Homo sapiens: one gene and its partners. The protein of the gene in region 3 interacts with the protein of the main gene of each other region in a biochemical or structural test. Each region holds a gene or a part of one and is shown on either strand. Other genes may lie near its edges.

What was found. Proteins that work in one complex are often made in the same cells at the same time.
Region 1: of the proteins of RPS6KA3 (region 3) and RPTOR, one has a biochemical effect on the other in vitro, tested with the Homo sapiens proteins (one study listed by BioGRID).
Region 2: the proteins of RPS6KA3 (region 3) and PEA15 form a complex in vitro, tested with the Homo sapiens proteins (2 studies listed by BioGRID).

The regions. Positions count from the first base shown.
Region 1 is NC_000017.11:80,960,440-80,966,923, reverse strand, and holds the end of RPTOR (regulatory-associated protein of mTOR), read right to left. Parts: intron 5,531-6,484; coding exon 5,444-5,530; intron 4,464-5,443; coding exon 4,347-4,463; intron 3,997-4,346; coding exon 3,867-3,996; intron 2,663-3,866; coding exon 2,594-2,662; 3' UTR 556-2,593; downstream 1-555. UniProt on the Homo sapiens protein: Component of the mechanistic target of rapamycin complex 1 (mTORC1), an evolutionarily conserved central nutrient sensor that stimulates anabolic reactions and macromolecule biosynthesis to promote cellular biomass generation and growth.
Region 2 is NC_000001.11:160,200,582-160,208,438, reverse strand, and holds the start of PEA15 (astrocytic phosphoprotein PEA-15), read right to left. Parts: upstream 3,056-7,857; 5' UTR 2,917-3,055; exon of another isoform or gene 1-2,916. Other genes in the region: CASQ1 (calsequestrin-1 precursor), read right to left, coding at 7,063-7,194. UniProt on the Homo sapiens protein: Blocks Ras-mediated inhibition of integrin activation and modulates the ERK MAP kinase cascade. Inhibits RPS6KA3 activities by retaining it in the cytoplasm. Inhibits both TNFRSF6- and TNFRSF1A-mediated CASP8 activity and apoptosis.
Region 3 is NC_000023.11:20,165,397-20,172,909, forward strand, and holds part of RPS6KA3 (ribosomal protein S6 kinase alpha-3), read right to left. Parts: intron 7,476-7,513; coding exon 7,350-7,475; intron 4,096-7,349; coding exon 4,006-4,095; intron 2,352-4,005; coding exon 2,193-2,351; intron 1-2,192. UniProt on the Homo sapiens protein: Serine/threonine-protein kinase that acts downstream of ERK (MAPK1/ERK2 and MAPK3/ERK1) signaling and mediates mitogenic and stress-induced activation of the transcription factors CREB1, ETV1/ER81 and NR4A1/NUR77, regulates translation through RPS6 and EIF4B phosphorylation, and mediates cellular proliferation, survival, and differentiation by modulating mTOR signaling and repressing pro-apoptotic function of BAD and DAPK1.

The DNA.
Region 1 (6,484 bases), on a different chromosome or scaffold from region 3:
TGGGTACGGCCCCTAGGCCTGGAAACACTTCTGGCCTGCATGAGAAGTGGTGACGGTGGGCGTGGGTCAGAGGCCCTGAACTGGAGGAAGGGGCCACGAGCCAAGGAGAGTGGGGGCCTCCAGAAGTGGGGAGGAGCGGGGAAGCGGCTTCTCCCCCAGGAACTCTGACGTGGCCCAGATTTCAATGCAGACTTGAATGGGGCCTCTAACCGTGAGAGGATAACCGTCATTTTAAAGAGAAAGACACGTGTCTGGCCTACGTCACAAGATGGCTCTTGCCACACAGTACGCTCCCTGATGTGGGGTCTGCGCCACAGGGCTGGGGGCACTGCCTGGGAGAAAAGGACCGAGACCTTTGCACACTCGACGTGCCAGGCCCCCTGTGGCCACAGTGCCTGCCTGGAGAGCACCCGGGACGCAGAGCTGCTGGTGGCCCTGGGGACAGCAGGGGGGACCCGGGCAACGTCCCCCCACCCCCCAGAGCTCTGCTCTGACCGATGCCCCCCTGAGGTGGGGTGGGCAGTTTCCTTAAAGACACAGCCGCCAGCCGCGGAGTCTGCGCGTGTTGTTTACTGTTGGTCACTCTCTGCTCTTAGCTTCACATTACCATTTCGTGTTTTGTCAAAGTCCGTCTCAATTCGCGTTTGGTAAAATAAATAGATAATGAGCCTCTAGGCCGGCGCTCTCTCGAGCCGGTTAACGTCGTGATTGAATTTTCACATCAGACCTGTGAAGACAGCCCACGTGCAGGCGGCACGCGGTGCCCATGGGGGTGGGCTCCAGGGTGGAGCGGGGGCGGGGGGGGGTCTTGACCCCTCTGGAGCCACCTGCCTTTTGACAGGTGGTGATTTTGTCTCAAAACAAACAGAAACGCGTGTTGGGTAAGAATTGAGTTGAAGGACTGGATGGGAAGCTGCGTGTGCGGGTGGAGCTGGGCTTCTGGAAGATTCTGGTGTTGCCGCCTGGCACGCCCTGTGAGCTGAGTGAGGCCGGGACTCTCTACACCTTCCGGACCCGGGCTGCTTTCTCGGCCCAGACGTGGGGATGGGATTCGTGCCGGAACCTTCTTCTGGTGGGAGCTCGCATTCCAAAAAGGAGCAGCGGAGGGGCCGCCTCTGTCCTGCCTTGTCACGTCCCGGCCAGCCCCAGCTCAGTCTCCAGCTCAGCCCCCTGAGGGCCAGGTGTGTCTCTGGCCAAATGTGACCAGGCAGGGTTCCATCCACCCAGAAGATGCTCTTGGCCACGGCAGGCCACCAGCCACACCGCAGGAGAGCCGGGCCTCGCCACACCAGCTCTCACTCCCGTGGTCGTGGGCCTCTCACCGCCAGAATGAAGCCACCTGGCTCCTTCACCTCTCAATAATCCTGATTCCCGACGAACACGGAAAGAACACTTTTCAAAATACCATCATTGTGGTTGTGTTCTGTTTGCAAAACTGCTCATACACGCCCTGCGGCCCCTCCTGGGCGGGACTGTCCACACAGCTCCTGTCTGCACCACAGGCCCAGCTGTCAGCCGAGGTCGCATCAGCATGGGCGGCTCAAGGCTGGAGACGGGGCTGGTGTCACCCGGAGCCGTCCGGGACCCGGCAGTGCCTCTTGCCTGTATGTGAGGAACGTGTGGGGACAGAGCAGGGAGACCACGCCGCCTGCATGTGTGTGCCCCCAGGTGCCGGCCGTGGTGCCATCTGCACATGCGTGTGCTACACCTGTGTGAGGGCACAGGCATGGAGACCACAGGTCGGGCTGCTGTCCCCGCGCCTGTGGGGAAGAGCAGCCCTTCGGAGGGAAAGGAGCCCCGTGGATTAAGGCAGGGGCTACCTCGCCAAGGACCTGCCTCCCCTGTGCACCGCCACAGCGGCCCCTGCTGACAGCTCTGTGTGAGAGGGGCCAAAACTGGAGTCCAGAGACCTGGAGGTGCGGGGAGGGTGGGCTGTGCGCTTCCTGCTCAGTGATGCTGCCAGCGGCCAAGGACAGCCCGGACCCCTGGGCGGCTTCCTTCACACCCGCCAGTTGGAGGGGCGTCTCCTTCTTCCTCTCTCTTGGTTTCCCGAATTTCCAGTGTCCCCCAGCTGGCTAGGAAATGTCCCTGCTTGCGTGCACTGACTGTGAGAGGTGGTGGGCCTGGCTGGGGCAGCGCCTCTCGCTCGCTCTTGGCCTGATGGGGACAGCTGCCCCAGGGACCCGTAGGAGCCCCAGCGCCTGCCTCTCCGCCAGGGCTCTGTCGGGGGGTTTTTCTGCAGCTAATGCTCTGATTACATGGAAATAAAGTGAGGTGTTTCCCCTTTCAGCGTCTCAGAGAAACACAGAACAGGAGAGGGACAGAGGCGCCGTGGCCGCGGGGGTGCACCTGGATGCTGGTGCTCAGTGGGAAGCCACCGTCAACCCGAGCCCTCCCCTTCCCTGACATTCCAGACACGACAGCGAAGACAGACAAAAGCGAGTAGCAGGGCCCTCCTGCCGTCATCAGCAGCTAAGGCAGCAGCCAACGTTCACACTGCGGGGCCGCAGCAGCCGACGCCCCGTGCCCCGGCGAGTGACAGCTTCACTATGTACAGCAGGCGGCCGTGGCCTGGTGGGCCCGGGTCACGCCGCTATCTGACACGCTTCTCCACCGAGTACACGGAGATGTAGTAGTCGTTGCTTCCCACGGCCAGGTGAGGCTGCAAGGAGAGAGAAGGGGTGAGCAGGGGTTCAGGTGCGGGCAGACACTGCGGGGGGCGGGGGGGCGCAGGCCAACCCGCATCCTTAGGCAGCTCCTGCCGGGGTCTCAGGAACCCCCACGCCCACCTCAGGCCCGGAAATGCCGGGCCGGTCCCACCAGTCCTCTGCAGGGCCCATGCATGGTGCACTCCGTGAGGGGCGTGGCGCTGCCCCGGGCCCTGCGTGGTTTTTTCAGGACTGCCCCACGGGGCAGCTCTGGGATCCAATGTCACACGTGTCAGCAGAGCTACATGCCTGGAGCCTCACAACACAAGGCGGCAGGTGGGCAGAATCCTAATCTAAAAACAACGGCCTGAAGCCACGTGGGGAGGCTGCAACCAAGGCCAGAGAGCCGTGCAGGTGGGGCCCGGCCGCACAGGGGACAGGGTGAGGACTCGGCCGCACAGCGGACGGGGTGAGGGCCGCAGAGGGGACGGGGTGAGGGCCGCAGAGGGGACGGGGTGAGGGCCGCAGAGGGGACGGGGTGAGGGCCGCAGAGGGGACGGGGTGAGGGCCGCACAGGGGACGGGGTGAGGGCCGCACAGGGGACGGGGTGAGGGACGCAGAGGGGACGGGGTGAGGGACGCAGAGGGGACGGGGTGAGGGCCGCAGAGGGGACGGGGTGAGGGCCGCACAGGGGACGGGGTGAGGGCCGCACAGGGGACGGGGTGAGGGCCGCAGAGGGGACGGGGTGAGGGCCGCAGAGGGGACGGGGTGAGGGCCGCACAGGGGACGGGGTGAGGGCCGCACAGGGGACGGGGTGAGGGCCGCAGAGGGGACGGGGTGAGGGCCGCAGAGGGGACGGGGTGAGGGCCGCACAGGGGACGGGGTGAGGGCCGCACAGGGATGGACACCCCGAGCGACTCTCCTGGAGGTCCCCAGGGATGGCTTTAGTGCAGGGTCTGAGGGCAGGAGCTTTGCCCCAGCCACTGTGTGTCAATTCCTCCCGGAGTGACGGGACTGGGGCTCTGCTTCCGGGGCGAGTGCAGGGTGGGGCAGGGGCCCTAGAGATCCTGGGACCCAGGCAAGTCCCTCCCTCAGGCAGCCAATGGGCCCCACTGTGGTGTGGGGTAGCCAGGCAGGACCCCTGCTGCCTTGTCCCCTTGCCTCCCATCCCTCTACCCCAGCCCCCGACCCCCGACCCCCACCCACCGCCACACTGACCCAGTGCGGGTGGAAGGCCAGGCAGCTGATGGCGCCGACCCGCTGGCCCATGAAGCCGTCGTAGTACTTGATGTTGTTGATGAGCTCTCCGCTGCTGTTGTAGATGGCGGTGAACTGATTGACGGAGCCACTGTGGGGAGAGAAAGGGTCCCGGCATCACTGCCCTCTTCTTTGAGGATGGAAGATGGGCGCAGATGCCGAGACCGCGGGGACAGGCCGGCTAGACCACGGGGACAGGCTGGCTCGGGGCAGGTGTGACCCTCTGGTCACTCTCACTGAGGACTCGGGCCTGGCAGGGCCCTGAGAGTTTATCCTGGGAGGATGTGGTGGGCAGACATCTTTTGTTTTTATGTCCCCACAGCAGTGAAATCCTCCCCTGCCCTCCTTCAGCTCCTGGGGGCAGGAACACAAGAGCCTCCCGTTTGCACAGAGGCCCGAGGCGGGTGAGCGGTGCAGGCCAGGGAGGTGGGTGGCGCCTACCATGCGATCAGGTCCGCCTGGGGGTGGATGTCCAGGGCCGTCAGCCCCTTCACGATCTGAAGCACATTTACCGACTCAGGCATCCGGGGATCAAAGATGCGCACATCTCCATTGACGCTGCCAAGAGAGGGTCACAGTGACACCTCCTCCCGGAGGCCCCATGAGGGGCCTGGCCAGGGGGACGGTGGAACCAGGTGTGTGGGGTCGCACACCTGTTTGCACACACACTGCTCAAGGAAAAAGCTGCCTGGATGCTCAGCGTCCCCAGTGAGGGCTGCCCAGGTGGGGCCCAGACATGCACCCATACTGGTCTCAGGGCCAAGGCTGTCCCCCACAAGCTCTCTCAGAGCCAGAAAAGGCGCGGAGCTTTCTGGCCTAGAGAAATGACCATGAGCACAGATGCGGGAGGAGGCTGTGAGCTCCTGGTTTCATTTCCAGCTAGAGATTAGATTTCATGCAACCGGGGCCTGCAGTCCCGGGAGACAGAGCCTGGATGGCAGGCTGTGGCCCGAGAGAGGGATGGCCTGGCCCTTTTGAGGCCCCGTGGCTCCTGCCTTCCACCCCCAGCAGGCGTCCATCCCAAGAGTTATGTTTGGTTTTTATATCACAAACAAGGGGGAAAAGAGCATCTCTTTGAAGAAATGCTGGCTTTGCATTCATAAATTACATCTTGCTCTTCCTTTAATAGGCAAATAAATATTCCCTGCTCTTGGTGCTGTATTTACCAAGAGGCAGAACTGAATTTATGTGCAGACAACTGCCACGTGCCTGGCAGACGCGCCGCCCCTGCCACCCTGCCACCCCTGCCCGTGGAGGGAGAGCAGCTGCCCAACTCCCCCCGGAACCCTCCGCAGTTGGCAGCCCAGGAAAGTTCCCAAAGCGCCTGCAGGTCAGGTGTCCCCCAGCAGGGGAGCAGCTGTGGCCCCTGGGCCCCTACGGGCTGCGCCTGATCTTTCTGGCCAGTTCCAGGGCAGGAGTTAATTACTGCCCGAAATGCCATCCCCTTCCAGCTGTTTAAATACCAAGGACGTATTTTAAATGGAGGGGAAAATAATGTTTTTACAGCAGAACGGCTGCTAAATATCGGCGCTCCTCACCTCACACTCACGATGTGGCCGTCGGGACGCTTCTGCAGGGAGGCCTTCACCACCCAGGCTGTGTGCTCCCGGTACGTCATGACGCGGCTGTAGGGGAGGGGGCACGCTCAGCGTGGGGCTTCCCTGAAGGACGTCCCCACCCTTCGGGGCTCTCACCGGGAGCTGCCCAGGTCTGCCTGTGCCAGCGGGTCCGCAGGCCCTCGCCCGTCCGCTCCCCACGAGGGGCTAGTGCTCACGCAGGGTCAGAGCCCCCTCCAGGTGACCTGCTCCAGCAGAGACCCCCTGTGTCCTCCCCAGGCTGGCTCAGGGCTGGGCCCTAGGTCACCGTCAGGCCGCTGGAGGACTGTCTGAGCCACATGGAAGCTGCCCAGAGACGGGGGCCAGGCGGCCATCGCAGCGCTCCCAGGCCCTGCCCACCCTTTGCTTTGCTTCCCTCAAAACTCCTCATTGTGTCTCCCCGATCTGTGCAGACTGGAGGGTCAGGAATGAGAATCCCAGACCTAAAGCTGATGAAGCTGGAGGCACAAGGACCTTCTGGGAATCCTCGCTCTGTGCTGGGTGAAATTTACTTCTGCTGCATGAGCCGTGTGGGCCAAGACGGACTGTCCCCTGCTAGGCCCGGACAGCACCTGCCCACGGGGGTGCTCAGCAGAGGCAGTGCCCGGGGCTGCTGTGCCCACGCGTGTGCCCTGTCCCCTGCCAGACATGGACAGCACCTGCCCACAGGGGTGCTCAGTGGAGGCAGTGCCCAGGGCTGCTGTGCCCATGCGTGTACCCTGTCCTCTGCCAGACGCGGACAGCACCTGCCCACAGGGGTGCTCAGTGGAGGCAGTGCCCAGGGCTGCTGTGCCCACGTGTGTGCCCTCAGACATCCCTCCCCAGACACTTGCTGCATGACCCAGGAGGTGGCAGGCAGTGGCAGTATTCTGTTCAGGTGAGCTCAGAGGTGGCAGGTGCCTGGCTGCGGCCCTGCCTCACCCCGACAGCCTCTGCCTCCAGTCCACTGGCTCATCCCACATGGCCTGTCCCCTGTGCTCCTCC
Region 2 (7,857 bases), on a different chromosome or scaffold from region 3:
ATCAGGAACCGGAGCCCCGGCTGCCAGGAAGTCAGTCCTCTTCCCTCCCAGCTTTCTGTGCTAGGCTCACCGCTTCCTCACACCTTCCTTCCTTCCTGCCTCCCTCTCCTTCCAAGCTGGCCCCAGGCACAGCCCTGACAAAGGTCAAACCAACTGAGGATGCTGGGGAAGAGGGGCAGGAGGTAAGGACCATTATATACTGACCTTTTAGGGTGGGACAGGTGGGAGCTCCATGGGCACTGGGGTAAGAAGAGCCAGGCCCTGGGAGTGCTTTGAGAAGCCTGGCAATTGGGATAACCACCTGTGGAGGAGGTGGCAGCACCAAAAGAATTTCTGTGCATTTTGACATTAAGTCGTGGTAGATTATCCCTTCTAACGTTTGGTTCCAAATCCTCTGTAAATTCGAGAAGGAAGCCTGAAGATTAAGAGTTGCTGCCCGTCCCTCTTCCACATCTGTTGCAGCTGCCTAAGCCTGAGGGGAGGGGCCATCCCAGACAGCTGCAAGGACCTAGAGGTCCCTGTATTGGGCAGGAGGGGACTCCCAGGCACTCAAGTCTGTCAGTCTTCTGCCTGAAGTTGGAAGTAATCACGGAGAGGCAGAGGGGTTGGAAGGGAGAGAGTAGGGGTCCAGCTTTCCTATTTTAAATTATAACTGGGCCCCAAATTCAAGCAGTCCTGTAGTTTATTTCCTTTAATATCATTCTCAATTAATTTCTTCTTTAAGCTTTTTATCCAGCTTTGTGGGGGAGGAGGGGGTTGTCTTTACTCCTGTAACAAGGAAATTGAGGGTTCTGAGGCTCCAGGGTCAGCCTGGAAGTGACGAGAGGCAGGACATCTGGGCCCTAAAATGTTCACTTCAGTCCAAGAAGCAAAATGGATTACCTTTGGGCATGGGGACAAGGATTAGCCTTCAGCCCTTGGTCTAGAAAGAGCCAGACCCAAGATGGGGCATCAGGAGATAGCTGGCACTGGATCAGGCAGAGCAGAGGAGGGCCGGCTGATGGCGAGGAGGGGAATGGGGCCTAGGACTCTCCCCAGCCCATCTCTGTTTCCACTCTTCTGGTGTGGCACTCCCTGCTTCTATTTCTGTCTCTCTCCATCTCTCTCACTCTTTGTCATGCATTTCCTTTCTACTTCATCTTTCAGTCTCTCTTTTCCTCCTTTCTATAGGCTTTCACCCCTTCTAGCATTTCCTACTCACCTATCCAACTTAGTGGTAGCCATGAATACTTAGGACTCCTGAGATCTGTGCTTCACTGTCCCCATCTGAATATTCGGAGCTGCAATTAGGAAGGGGTGAGCATCCCTGCTACAAAAGACAGAGTAAGTTTGGTCGGAGTGGCTTGGAGATTCAGTGGTTGGCTGCCTACCAGCTGGTGAAGATATCCATCATGACATTGTGCGTGAGGATCTGTGTGAGAGAGTGAGGCGCTCTGTGATTCTGTGACCCTCTTCATGCATGATAATACATCCACACATGATGGGCACGGAATTGAGGAAGTAGGCAACCAGGGAAGCCTGCAGCCTAGGGCATCACTGGCAATTTCCCCAATGGAGTATTTAACCACAAAGGGAAGAGCAATTAAAGCTAATCGCTCTGACAGCCTGGGGCCCAGACACACGTACCACTTTCCCTAACTCCCAGTGGTCTCCCCCAACCTTCATCCTCCCTAATTTGTTTAGTGCACTCTCAAACACTGTTTGCACTTCTCTGACCATCTCTTTCTCTCACTTCCTCCCTCTCCCTGGTTCCCTGACTATCTCTAGACCTCTCTGGAGATGTCTGTCTGCTTCTCACACACATTCCTCTCATTCTCTCTCTGACTTGGGTTCCATTCTTGGCTGACTCATACCCATTCTTTTTCCTCTCCGTTTCTTCCACCCCCTCCTCCTCCATCCCTTGGCCACTCTTACCCAGAAACTAGCCACTCCCAGCACGCTAAGCCCTAACTGGACCCAGGAAGAGAAGCCACCAGAAGCCCCTACCCTCATTAGTCCGCAAAATCCTGTCTCCTTGTGTTAGAGGAATGAGACCAAGATTTTCTCCCATCTTTCCCCACAGTTTTAAAGAGGAACAATCTGAAACCATGGGGCTGGGAAAAGCTGCCAGAAAATCAGGATGGATTTGGGGACAGTGGCCCTTTCTGTCCACTCAGCTGTCCTGTCGGACTGATGACTTGGAGCCCGCAGTTCAGAAGACTCCTCATGGGATGCCCCACCCCACAGAGTGGGGGTGTGGTGGGCGGCCGGATGCGTAGTCCAGGGACGTTTGTGATTTGGAGTGTGCTAGACTATGTGTATAAGTCACATGGGTGTGTGTCACTGTGTGTGCTGGCGTGCCTTATAGGTGTGCGTGTTTCCCTGTCAGTTTTGACACGGATTATATGAAATTAATAAGGGTTTTTACGTTAGATATACATCACTTCTCTACACCCCCAGCTCCTCCTTCCCTCTGGACAAGCTTTCCGCCAAGCCCACCTCTTCCCCAGGTGCAGTGAGCTGGGGGTGAGGGCACATGGTACCAGCCGCCCGCGGAACCGAGACAGGGCTGGGCCGGGAGACCGCCAGCGGAGGCGAGTCCGAAGCCTGAGCGGGGAGGGAGGGGCGGGCGCTGGCCTGGCCGAGCCGGCTGGGCGGGAAGCAGGCTGCATCCTAATCCACAGGCCCCGGTCCGACTCCCAAACTGCCGTTCAGCGTGGAACGGGCTGGCCGGAGCCACGCCGCCTCCAGCACACGCTCGGCGCTCGGGACGCACCGACCGAGGGACGGACCCCGTGAGGCCTGACACAAAGTGGACTCGTCCGGGGTCCCCACACTCCCCGTCTGGCCCCCGGTGTCCCAGATCGTTGCCCCTCCAAGCCTAGACCCCGAAATCTGCCCCTTCCCCGCGACATGTCTCCTCTCCGCCCCTCTCACCGCCTCTGGAGCTGAGCGCTCAGGGCGCGGGCACTCCTGAGTCCCCGGTTCCTAAGCAGCGTCCGGAACCTCCTCCTCGGCTCCCGCCGCCGCCGCCGCCGCTTCTGCCGCCGCCGCCGCCTCTTCCGCCCGCGGAGCCGGAGCCCGAGCCCAGCGCCGCTCACTCCACCCGGCTGGCCGGTGATGTCAGAGCCGGGGAGGGGCGGGGGGCGGGGAATGGCGGGAGGAGGGGGAGGGATGGAGAGGCAGGAGGGGGCGGGGGACCGAGGGGCTGGGGTTCTGGAAGACTCCTAGGATGGGGGACAGAATTGGGCGGAGGGCTGGAGCGGAGACGGTCTCTTCCCCCTGAACTGCGAAACAATTCTCATATTTAATTCTTACCCAGTAGGGCACCCTCCTCCCCTTTTGACCTTTGGATGACCACGGTGCCTAGGACCCCTGGGAGGCACAGAGTAGGTTTGGTTTAGGGGGTTGGAAAGCCTTTGGGGGCTGGATTCTCTTAGCTGCTGGCTTTAATATTTGTAAAAACTTCTTGCCTTGCCTTAAGGGTCAGGGGCGCAGTGGAAAATGACTGATCAGACTTATCCACATTGGGAGTGAGGGGTTGGGGCCACATGGGGACTTGAGGAGCCCTGGATCTTCTCTTTCCAGGATGATGCCTTCAGGCCCTCTTGCGTGCCTCTCACCTTTCCCAAACATGCCCCACTCCTGCCTTCCCCCTACCATGATGTAATTTTATTTTCTGGGGAGAAAAAGAGCAGCAGTGAGCTCAGCATGCAAATATAGACAACTTGCAAAGCCACACTTAGCTCCATCTCCTAGCTCTGCCCCTCTGCCCAGGCCCAATGTGGCAGCTCTCACTTCCCCTCTACCCCAGGGACTTTCCTCCCCCAGATTCTCAGCCAGACTGAAAAGAGGAAAGGAAGAATTGGAGAAGCATCTGTTTTCACCCCCATCTCTATAGCCTAAGGGGTCTTGCCTCAGCTCTGGGCAGGGTTTGGCCCTGGAAAGAAGTCTGACCCTGGGTAGGTCCTTCCTGCCAGGAACTCCAGCAGGCCCAGGTTGGGGGATTCCCCTCAGTGTTTGTGCCACTTCCAGGATCACCCATCTCATCTCAGTTCCTACCTGGCAGAGACTCCTCCAGAAACCTCAAACGAGCCCCTCCTTTCTTGGGTCTACACCATTCCTAGAAGAGGCCCAAGTTCCTGCTGCTCTGGGTTTCATAGCATTTCTCTGCTGTTTCCTCTCCCCAGCATTCCCTGTCACACACTAATCATTTGCCTTTGTATATATCATGTTTGCTCTGTGTTGTAGGGACAAAAACTATTTCGTTGACCCATCTTTGAGACTCATGTAGTTTCTAAGTGAAAGGCTCAGGTCTGGAGGCAACAAGACACAGGGGCCTTGGGCTGCGTGCTAGTTCCACCCATTCCTTGGGCAAGTTATGCCTGAAAGCCTTAGTGTCCTCACCGGTCAGATCAGGGTGCCAATGTCTATTTCTGAGGGTTCTTCTGAGATTCAGAAATAGTAAGTCTCTAGGGACTGGCACAGATGGGTGCTTAAAAAATAGGAGCTATTATTTAGACCGGGGCCTTCCACTGACCTATGCTAGACAGTAAGCTCCACAATATTATTGTAAGACTAGCTTAGTGCCCATACTACTTATTAAACATTTATTAAATAGCTACAAGTTGGAATGAATACATAGTTTCTGCTTTCTACACCCCTGCCACATTCTCTAGGAACACTTCCTGGACTTGTCTGTGGAGAGTGAAAATATATCTAATCTCAGGTCTCATCTTTCCGTACTTAGAAATCCTCTAAGTCTCTCAGCAACAACTTTACACCTGATCCATGAAAAATATAATGTTGGCTTGGCGTGGTGGCTCACGCCTGTAATCCCAGCACTTTGGGAGGCTGAGGCAGGTGGATCACCTGAGGTCAGGAGTTCAAGACTAGCCTGACCAACATGGTGAAACCCCATCTCTACTAAAACTACAAAAAAGTTAGCTGAGTGTGGTGGTGGGCACCTGTAGTCCCAGTTACCTGGGAGGCTGAGATAGGAGAATCTCTTGAACCCGGGAGTCGGAGGTTGCAGTGAACCGAGATCTCACCACTGCACTCCAACCTGGCAACAGAGTGAGACTCCATCTCAAAAAAAAAAAAAAAAAAGAAAAAAATATATATATATACACACACATATATATGTATATGTATATATATATAATGTTTATTATTTATGGGCATCATCTCAAAAATATATATATAATGTTTATTATTTATGGGCTTGTTTAGCTATTTGTATATATTATATATATAAAATGTTTATTGTTCATGGGCATCATCTCAAAACTATATATGTATATGTTTATTATTTATGGGCTTATTTAGCTATTTGGCCCTCCCATCCCCAACTCCCTAAACTCCTTTTTGCTTACCCCAGCCTGGGCCTATTCTGGAAAGACTGTGGGTCCTTCTTGCCAAGACCTCCAGCAGGCCCAGGTCTGGGAGATCCCCATTGTATACAATATCTCCTCTCCATTCCCATGGCCACCACTTGGGTCCATGTTCTCCCAACATCACTCCAATTATTATAACAGTCACTGATTATGGGTTGGGCCCCTTACCTCTGGCATCTCCATCATCTCCCCTCCCCATCCTGCTTATCGCTACCAGATTAAATTTTGCCCTGCCTCCTCGGCTGGCAGGATTCAATTCAAACAGCTCTACAACCCAGCCCCATTATGCTTACCCAACTTCATGGCCACAACTTGATTTTTCTTCTTGTCTCTCTGGTCTCTGTGCCCCCAATATGACAAACATATCCTGCCAGTACTTGATGTTTTCCACTGACTGAAATGTCTCCTCCTCAGCTCCTTTGTCTCCAACCAAATCCCATTCTTCAATTTAAGGCCTAGTAAAGGCTTACTTCCTTTGTGAAGTCATCAAGCCCACTCTGATCTCTCTTCTGAGTTCATTCTGTTCTTTCCTTTGTTCTTCCTTTAGGAAACATTTACTAGGGACAACTTTTGAGTGTCAGACCCTGTGGACACAAAGAAAAAGCTTGGGTTCCTGCCTTCAAGGGGCTCACAGTTGAGTGGGGAAGACAGACACGTAAATGAAGAACAATAACAGACTGTGCTGAGTACTGGAATGGAAGTGCAGCAGGAACTCAGAAGAGGTCATCACTGGAGGGGCCACCTCTGGGAAGGCTTCACCAAGGAAGTATAATTGGAGCTCTGTCTTGATGTTCAAATAAGAGCTGCAGAGAGGGTGCTATCGAGCAGCACATAATCACTTAATTACATATTGCTTTGTATTCTTCTTCGATTGTTTAGTATGCTTGTCTTGACTTCTCCGTGAGGCTAATCAGCTCAAGATCAGGGACAGGCCTAGCACTCTCTGTTCTCCCAGAGCCTAACAGTGGCCCTGGACAAACACCATGTGTTCAGAAAAGGCTTGTTGACTTGAAGCAGATTAACAATCCAGGCTTCTCTGGGAAAGCTGCCTGGAGGAACCCCAGTCCCCACTATAAGAGTCCCCCAGCTCATCCCTAGCAAGGCACCCACATCTGAATTCCCCATCAGTGGCCACCTCCTCCTGCCATAGGGGTGAGACTTCACCAAAATACACTTGTTCATGCTGCCCCAGATGTCTTTATTGAGGCCTCTCATTTGACCCAAATACATTAACAAGTGATTGCTGAGATACAGTCCCAAACACAGTATTCTCCCTTCCTTCTGGCCAAGGACAGGACAGTCAGAAAGATACAGGATTAGAGAGAGTGGGGGAAAGCTGTGCATAGATGGAGGGAACAGAACAGAGATGGGGCCCATATATATGGCTAGAGGAGAATCACAAGAAAGAGTATGGAGAGTGATGGAAGAGACACATAATAGATACAAGTAAGTTATGGGATAAGAAACAGAAGTCAGATAAGAGAGAGCTGGCCTGGTGTCTAGGGAAAAGTAGCTCATTTGCTCATCAAATGAGGGGGATCAGTGTCTCAGCACCCAGCATATAGACCCCAGTTAGCTCTATGGCAGAGAATAACCTAGTCTCCCTGGAGGAACTCAGGGAAGGACAAGGGAAGGCAGGAGAGAGCATGAAAAGACCAGTGGGGCTGAAAGATGGTTGCCATAGCAACTAGTCATCATCATCATCGTCATCGTCCTCTGTGTTGATCTCGCCCTCCAGGACATCCTCCAGCCAGTCCTCCAGCTCCTCAGCAGAAGGCAGGTCCTCCTCATCGTCCATTTCCATCCATACGCTATCCGCCTAGGAGATGGCACAGGCAGGGACGGAAGCTAAGTCCAACCCGGGTCTTAGGATCTGTCTTCCCACTCACTGGACTCTGTACATCCTTCCCTACATTCTCAGTCCCTTCCTTTCATCTGCCAAAGGCCAGGGAAACTGTCCAGGTGAAGGTATGGGTTATGGGTTAGAATAGTGACAGGTGAGAGTGGGAAGAAAAGTTGGATTGGCAAATAGACCTTCTCCCTTCAATCTGTCTCCCGTGCTCTTGCCACACTGAACTTCCCTATTATGCCTTTGGTGCAAAACCACTGGTAGCTCTTCATGGCTTATAAGAATAAAGTTAGCAACTCTTCGGCATTCAGGACATTTCTTTCTTTCTTTCTTTTCTAAAAGAGACATGGTCTCACTCTATTGCCCGGGCTGAAGCGCAGAGGGGCAGTCATGGCTCACTGCAGCCTTGAACACCTGGCCTCAAGTGATTCTCCCACCTTGGCCTCCCAAAATGCTGGGATTACAGGCCTGAGCCACTACCCTGGCCCCAGGGCTTTTCATAACCTGCTTTTCTAGTACCATTCTCAGTGATCTCTAGACTCTCAACCATAAAAATCCACCTGCCTTTTCCGGGAACCTGATATTCATTTTCCTGTTTTTAACTTTTGATCTTGCTTTTTCCTCAGTTTGGAA
Region 3 (7,513 bases):
AGCTGCTGTAGATACCGTGGTGAACAAGACCCATGAGATCCTGGCCTTTCCATGCTAGGAGCTTACACAGTTCTGGGGGAAGCAGAGAATAGGTTGAGAGATGGGACATAACTAGGGAGGTCACTTTAAATAGGGCAGTCAGGAAGGGTCTCTAGATTAGGTAACATCTGATCCAATAGCTGAAGAACAGAATGAATGAGCCATAAGAACAGTAAGGGAGAGTCATTCTAACTAGAAGGAACAGCACGTACAAGATACATACACAACAAATATATTCTGATAGACTAAATGGAATAGACAGGGCATTGAGGAGTAAAAAGGAAAAAACCAAAACAAATCTGGACTTTATTTTTGGTACTGCCTATTTGATATACAAGGTGTTACACATGCAAGAAACCTCTTCTTTAGAGTTCTGTATTATTTTCCTCTTTTAATGATCTACCTGAGTACAGTAGTCCCCCCTTATCCGTGGCGTATATGTTTCAAGACCCCCAGTGGATTCCTGAAATTGAGGATAATACCGAAGTCTCTCTATATTTTTTCCTAGATATATATACCTATGATATAGTTTAATTTATAAATTAGGCACAGTAAGAGATTAACAATGACTAATAATAAATTAGAACACTTGTAACAATATACTGTAATAAAAGTTATATGAATGTGGTCTCTCAAAATACTGTAATATTTTTGACAATGGTTGACTGTGGTAACTGAAACCACAGAAAGCAAACTTGCAGATTAGTGGGGGACTACTGTACTTTTTTATCATAAGCTTCTCTGACATTCCTTTTTAGACTTAAGTGTGCCTTCTGTCACCAAATTCTGAGTCTGTGTTCCAATCAATCAAATTAGATTTAGTTCCTCACATCCAGGACATCACTTCTCCAGACTATTTTAATAACGAATTACTGATGAGGCATTGGGAAAAGAACACAGAAGACTTTGATGACTGCAAGGTCATAAGTTCCTCAGTGACTACTGAGTTCTACTAATTTCAAGTTACAATACTAGGCAAATCTTGATAAGTTAGAAGTCAGGAAGCTCCAGAATTAACACATTCTACTTGGCTTTCAGGGGCAAAGACAAAACAAAAAGAATGTATTGAAACTGAACTCCTTAAGAAGTAATCTTTTATATATGCATGTATCAAAACATCATGTTGTATACCATGAATATACATAATTTGTCAACTAAAAAATTTTTAAAAAATTGTTTATTTTCCCCTTGCTTTCTGCTCCTCTGCTTCACTCCTCTGCTGTTCTCCTTTCCTCCCTCCCTCCCCTCATTTTCTCCTTTCCTCCCAGACTTCCCTTCTTTTTTTTTTTTTTTTTTTTTTGAGATGGAGTCTCACTCTGTTGCCCAGGCTGGAGTGCAGTGGTGCAATTTCAACTCACTGCAACCTCCGCCTCTCGGGTTCAAGCAATTCTCCTGCCTCAGCCTTCTGAGTAGCTGGGATTACAGGCATGAGCCATGACGCCCGGCTAATTTTTGTACTTTTAACAGAGACAGGGTTTCGCCATGTTGGCCAGGCTGGTCTCAAACTCCTGACCTCAGGTGATCCACCCACCTTGGCCTCCCAAAGTGCTGGGATTACAGGCGTGAGTCACTGCACCCGGCCGCCTTGTTTTAAAAATACGATTTTCTCGAACTCCTGACCTCAAGTGATCTGCCTGCCTCGGCCTCCCAAAATGCTGGGATTACAGGCATAAGCTACCGTGCCCAGCCTAGAAATACAATTTTCTTTTGCTGTTTACTAAAAATCTGCATACAAGAAGAACGAAGAGCATATCCACCAGCCGAAGCATGTGACTCCTTGGCCTCATTGTTTTAAGGATTTCCTTTTATACATGAATACAAACCAGGATTCCTTGGTTCTGCTTCTAACCTGAAGTGGGCCTGGTTTTCATGAGTACAGAGTGACCTAGCAGAAACAATGCTATGTTTTCCAGGTCGGAAGAGATCACTTACTTTTTCTTGGAAGCACAAGAGTTTAACATAAACAAGCTAGGATATCAAAGGTACACTTCAATCTCAATAATAAAAGTTTATATAGAGGAAGGTCAGTAGGATAATTCAGCTAATAGCAGTTATTTTCCATTTCAGGCATAAAGTAATTTCTATCTAATTCTAGCTCAAACATAAAGGAAAAAAGTGTGTGTATGTACATATAGAGTGGTAAAAAGACTTACCCCTTGTGCGTGAAGATATTCAACGGTTTTAGTTATAGTGAACAGGACAGCACTGGCCTCTCGTTCAGAGAAAAATTTTTGTCTAAGAATTTTATCCAGCAATTCACCTCCTTTCATAAGTTCTGTTACTACATACACATACTTTCCATCATCATATACCTATAAATTTCAACATCAAAATGTAAATATTATTTGAAACTATATGTGCCCAAAACGAAGTTTAAAATATAAAGGAAAAATTAAACTCACTTCATATTCAAGACAAATTTTATTTATTTATTTATTTTGAGACAGACTCTGTCGCCCAGGAGTGCACTGGCACAATCTTGGCTCACTGCAATATCCACTTCCTGGGCTCCAGCGATCCTCCCACTTCAGCCTCTCAAGTAGCTGGGACTATAGGCGCATGCCACCACACCTGGCTAATTTTTGCATTTTTTGTAGAGACGAGCTTTTGCTGTGTCTCCATGAGCAGGGATAATCTGAGGAAATTTGAGTTTTGACAACCCCCAGATAAGGCCTTTGGGCCTATTGAGCATCATTAGCAAGAGAAGACTTAACACTACCTGGGGAGTTCACACTGTTTGCCAACACTTTGTTATAATAAAAGTCAAGAGAGACATAGGCAACAGGGTTATCATGACAGTCCAGGGAAAGATACTTTACTTGTCCTGGGGGTGGCAATGGGCAGGGCAGGCTTCCTGGAAGAAGCAGTGCCTTAGCAAAATCTTATATGTGTGGTAGTTAGCCAGGTAAAGAAAATAGATGGTGTTGGCAACTGAGGGAACTATAAATTCAGACATAACAGCATGGAAAATGAGGCATGCGCAAGAAATTTACATACTAGAACACAGAGCATCAGGTGTATGAGAAAGGGTGTGTGAGAAGTCTGAAAACTACAGAGGAAGGCAGGGTCTTAAGCGGCTGGGGACTTTAGACTGTAGGCAGGGAAGTTAAATGGGTAGTTATGAGTGTTAGATCTCTTTTCTAGTAATGTGGAAGATACTTTGGGGTAGTCTGGAGAGTGAGACTAGTCAATATTGAATATGAACTAATAGTAATATTAACACTGAACATTTAGGTAAGTGTTCAAGTAAGTGCAGATATTAAAAGCAATAATATCGTAAGTACTTTTCTTCTTAAAGCAAAAGTAGAAAAAAATAACTGTACAAACATATCTTTATTGATAAATGAAATTATGCCATATACACATATAAATTGTTTTCAAATCTACTTTTTAAACTTACCATGTTGAATTTTGTTTTGTTTTGTTTTTGTTTTTGAGACAGGGTCTTGCTCTGCTGCGCTGGCTGGAGTGCAGTGGTGCGATAACTGCTCACTGAGGTCTTGACCTGCCGGGCTGAAGCAATCCTCCCACCTCAGCCTCCAGAGTAGCTGCGACTATAGGCATGAGCCACCATGTCAGGCTAATTTTTAAATATTCTTTAGAGACAGGGTCTCCCTATGTTGCCCAGGCTGGTCTTGAACTCCTGGGCTCAAGCAATCCTCCTGCCTCAGCCTCCCAAAGTACTGGGATTACAGGTGTGAGCCACTGTGCTCGGCCTGGCTAATTAAAAAAAAATTTTTTTTTGTAGAGATGGAGATCTCACTGTGTTGACCTGGCTGGTCTTGAACTCCTGGCCTCAAGTGATCCTCCTGCCTTGGCCTCCCAAACTGCTGGGATTACAGGCGTGGGCCACTGTGCCCAGCCTATGATGAGTTCTTTGTCTACCACATGATTTTTGAAAATACACTACTTTCAATGTGAGTTAGACAACTGATTCAAATGATCCATATTAAAGAATCTACTTACATCCTTTAGAGTGATAATGTTTGGATGCTGTCCATAACGAAGAAGAATTTCAATTTCTTCTGTTGGGTCTCTCTTGCTTTTATCAATAATCTAAAAGGCAAATGTTTATCACAAAACCTCATCAACTATACAGTTATAAACATTAATTGTTTATAGCTACAGACCTTGGGTATTACCTCATGTAAATAGTGTATAAATAAGCCATTTATCAGTCAGTTTTATTCAACTACCTGGCCAGATTGTTTAATCAGAAAGCCAGTCTTGATATAGATGGCAAGGCTGTAAATTCTAACTCATGAGTCGCATTCCCACCATGCCTCTCCAATCTAAGTTTGTAAGTTTGTAGTAAGTTTAGGACTTAACCAAAAACTCAAAAAGCCTCGAGAAAAGGTACCAAGAACACAGTTAACATATCTTTTCTTCTATCCTTGAGGCCTTAAACATTTGGGAACTCAGTCAACTTCTAACCCCCCATCAATACAGATAATTAAGAGCTAGATATAACACCACCACTAGCATCTGCTTATTGAATTAAGTTTACTTCCTTTAATAAAATGCTTCAATTGAATATCCTGTTAGCTGTAAGCTACTTATAAAAGCTAATTATCTGCTAAGTAGAACAATCTTGTTTTTGAAGTTAGGCAGAAAGCTACATAGAAAATCATACCTAGCATTTTATTTGGTTAGAATTTGGTTTAATTATTATAATAAAGCCCTTTAAAATAGTAATGTAGCTTTCTAACCCTTTTATATTGGCTGCTCCTTAAAAATATTTTTCTTAATGTTTTAATCTGCTCAACTAATATTATATAAAAAAGACAAATTTTGCTTTCTATTCATTCAAAGGGTAGTCTGAAACAAATTAGGTGGCCTTTGTATGTTCAATTTTAAACAGCTTAGTAATTAAGTATGCACTAAATACCCAGACACTCCAGCAACCTAGGAAAGAGGTTACAACTCTCAAGCATGGGTCCAGTCTTCTATCTGAAATGGATTTATAGTTGACCCTTGAACAACACAGGTTTGAACTATGAGGGACCAATTACACGTGGATTTTCTTCTGCTTCTGCCACCCCTGAGACACCAAGACCAACTCCTTCTCTTCTTCCTCCCTCCTCAGCCTACTTAAGGTGAAAATGATGAGGAAAAAGACCTTTATTATGATCCACTTCCATTTAATGAACAGTAAATGTATTTTCTCTTCCTTATATATATTTTTTCTTTTTTTGAGACAGGGTCTTGCTCTGTTGCCCAGGGTGGAGTGTAGTGGCGCAATCACGGCTCACTGCAACCTCAAACCCCTGGGCCCAAGTGATCCTCCCACCTCTACCTCCTGAGTAGCTGGGACCACAGGCACATACCACTACACTCAGAAAATTTTAAAAATTATTTGTAGAGATGAGGTCTGGCTATGTTGCCAAGGCTAGAGTACAGTGGCACATAGCTCACTGCAGCCTGAACCTCCTGAGCTCAAGCAATCCTTCCGTCTCAGCCTCCTGAGTAGCTGGGACTACAGGCACATGTAGCCACGCCTGGCTAATTTTTAAACAATTTTTCTGTAGAGATAGGGTCTTGCTCTGTTGCCCAGGCTTGTCTCAAACTCCTGGCCTCAAGCAATCCTCCCACCTCGGCCTCCCAAAGTGCTAGGATTACAAACGTGAGACACTATGTCTGGCATGATTTTCTTAATAACACTTTCTTTTCTCTAGCTTACTTTATTGTAAGAATACAGTATATAATACATATAACATACAAAATAATCGACTATATATGCTATCAGTGAGGCTTCTGGTCAACAGTAGGCTATGAGCAGTTAAGTTTTGGAGAGTCAAGTTATACGTGGATTTTCAACTGCTTGGGGATCAGCACTCCCAAGTCCTGTGTTATTCAAGGGTAGACTGTACTTGTATAACAGTTCTGTATTTGGAGAACAGGGAAGGTAAACATACAGGTGCCCACTGTAATCAACTGCAAATGATAGTGTGGAATTAGGCAAATGGGTGATTAAGAGGAGAGGTATATGGAATAGACATGCTAATTTAAGAGATGACCTGGGACTAGTCTTTTGAAAACCAGAACACACTGGGAGGGGTCGTTTTTGGCATGGATCTGCTAATCTGAGCCCAGTTTGCATTAGATCTATACTTGTGCTTGTGGACCTCAAATATGTGGTAATTTCAGTAGAATCCAGTTGTGTTGGGATTGGTTTTATGAATCATTTAAGTTACAAAAATCCACAAATAGCTTGGAGATATTTTTGAGGTTTTAGGCATAGTCCTCAAGGTTTCTGTAATTCAAAGGGGCCTCAGGACATTTCTGCTTTTTATGATGTATTTATGGAGGCAAGACACATCCTTAAACTGCCTACCAAATACATTATTAGTCTTTTCTCCTTTCATGTAAGCAATTTGAAAACTTCTATGTATCTTAGATTTCAGTAAGAGCAATGAATAGGAAAATAGAAAATTAAATGTATTTCTTTTAAGAATTTCCTTCTTTAAAATTAGCTTTATTGTCCTTCCAATGAAGCAAATTAAATGTATTTTTATGGTTCATCCTTCTATCTGACAGAAAGCCCTATAGACACTGACGACTTTAAAGCAGTTACATCTAAGTTTAGAAGAGTGATAACAACTAATGTCACTATCTCTCTAAACATGAGCTATGTATATTTATAAACCAGTCCTAAGGTTCAAACAAGTTGAAAGCTTTAGACATTGTTTGAATTGCTTGAGATTGGAGAGCAGAGGTTACTATTCCAAGAAGTGAAAAGAGACTTGAACATAGTGCTTGTTCACTTACGACTAAAGGTTTGAAATTCAAACTTTATCGTAGAGCTAGGTTCCTTGGTTTTTGGCTTAGAAAATTCTGTCTTAGGATACTTGATGAAATTAAAACAGCCAATGATAACGAATTTTATGATAGTGGTTTTTATTCATTAGTTCCCAGATCCTTTTAGATGCAAAGAAAGGTATGAACTTTTTGCCAGAGAAGATGTAAACATACAAAATTTTGCACACAATTTTGAGGAATTTGCTGACACCCTGAGCATAAAATGGGGACTTCTCAGAGTAAAAAGATACTTTAAAAATCACTTGAGGTAAAAAAAGAAAAAAAATCACTTGAGGTGTAAACTGCTACTGCTCTGGGAAAACTAGATATATAACCACCTTACCTTTAGCTCACAGGGTTCTAGATTAAGATCTCTGAAGATCACTAGCCAGATATTTAACTTTTTTATAACAAAAGGCACTTTTAACAACAAGGGGAGTGTAATTTTTAACTGGTACTGACATGCATGAACAAGAACTGTATGAATTGCATTTTAAATAAAAAAAATTTACCTTCACTGCAAACTCCATGTTTGTAGCTTTATGTATACATCTCTTGCAAACAGAGTAGGAGCCAACTCCAATATCTTCTTTTACTTCATATCCATCAGTAAACTGAATACTGTTCCTGTGTAACTGCTACAAAAAATTATAAATTGGTGAAGAGTCCCATAATG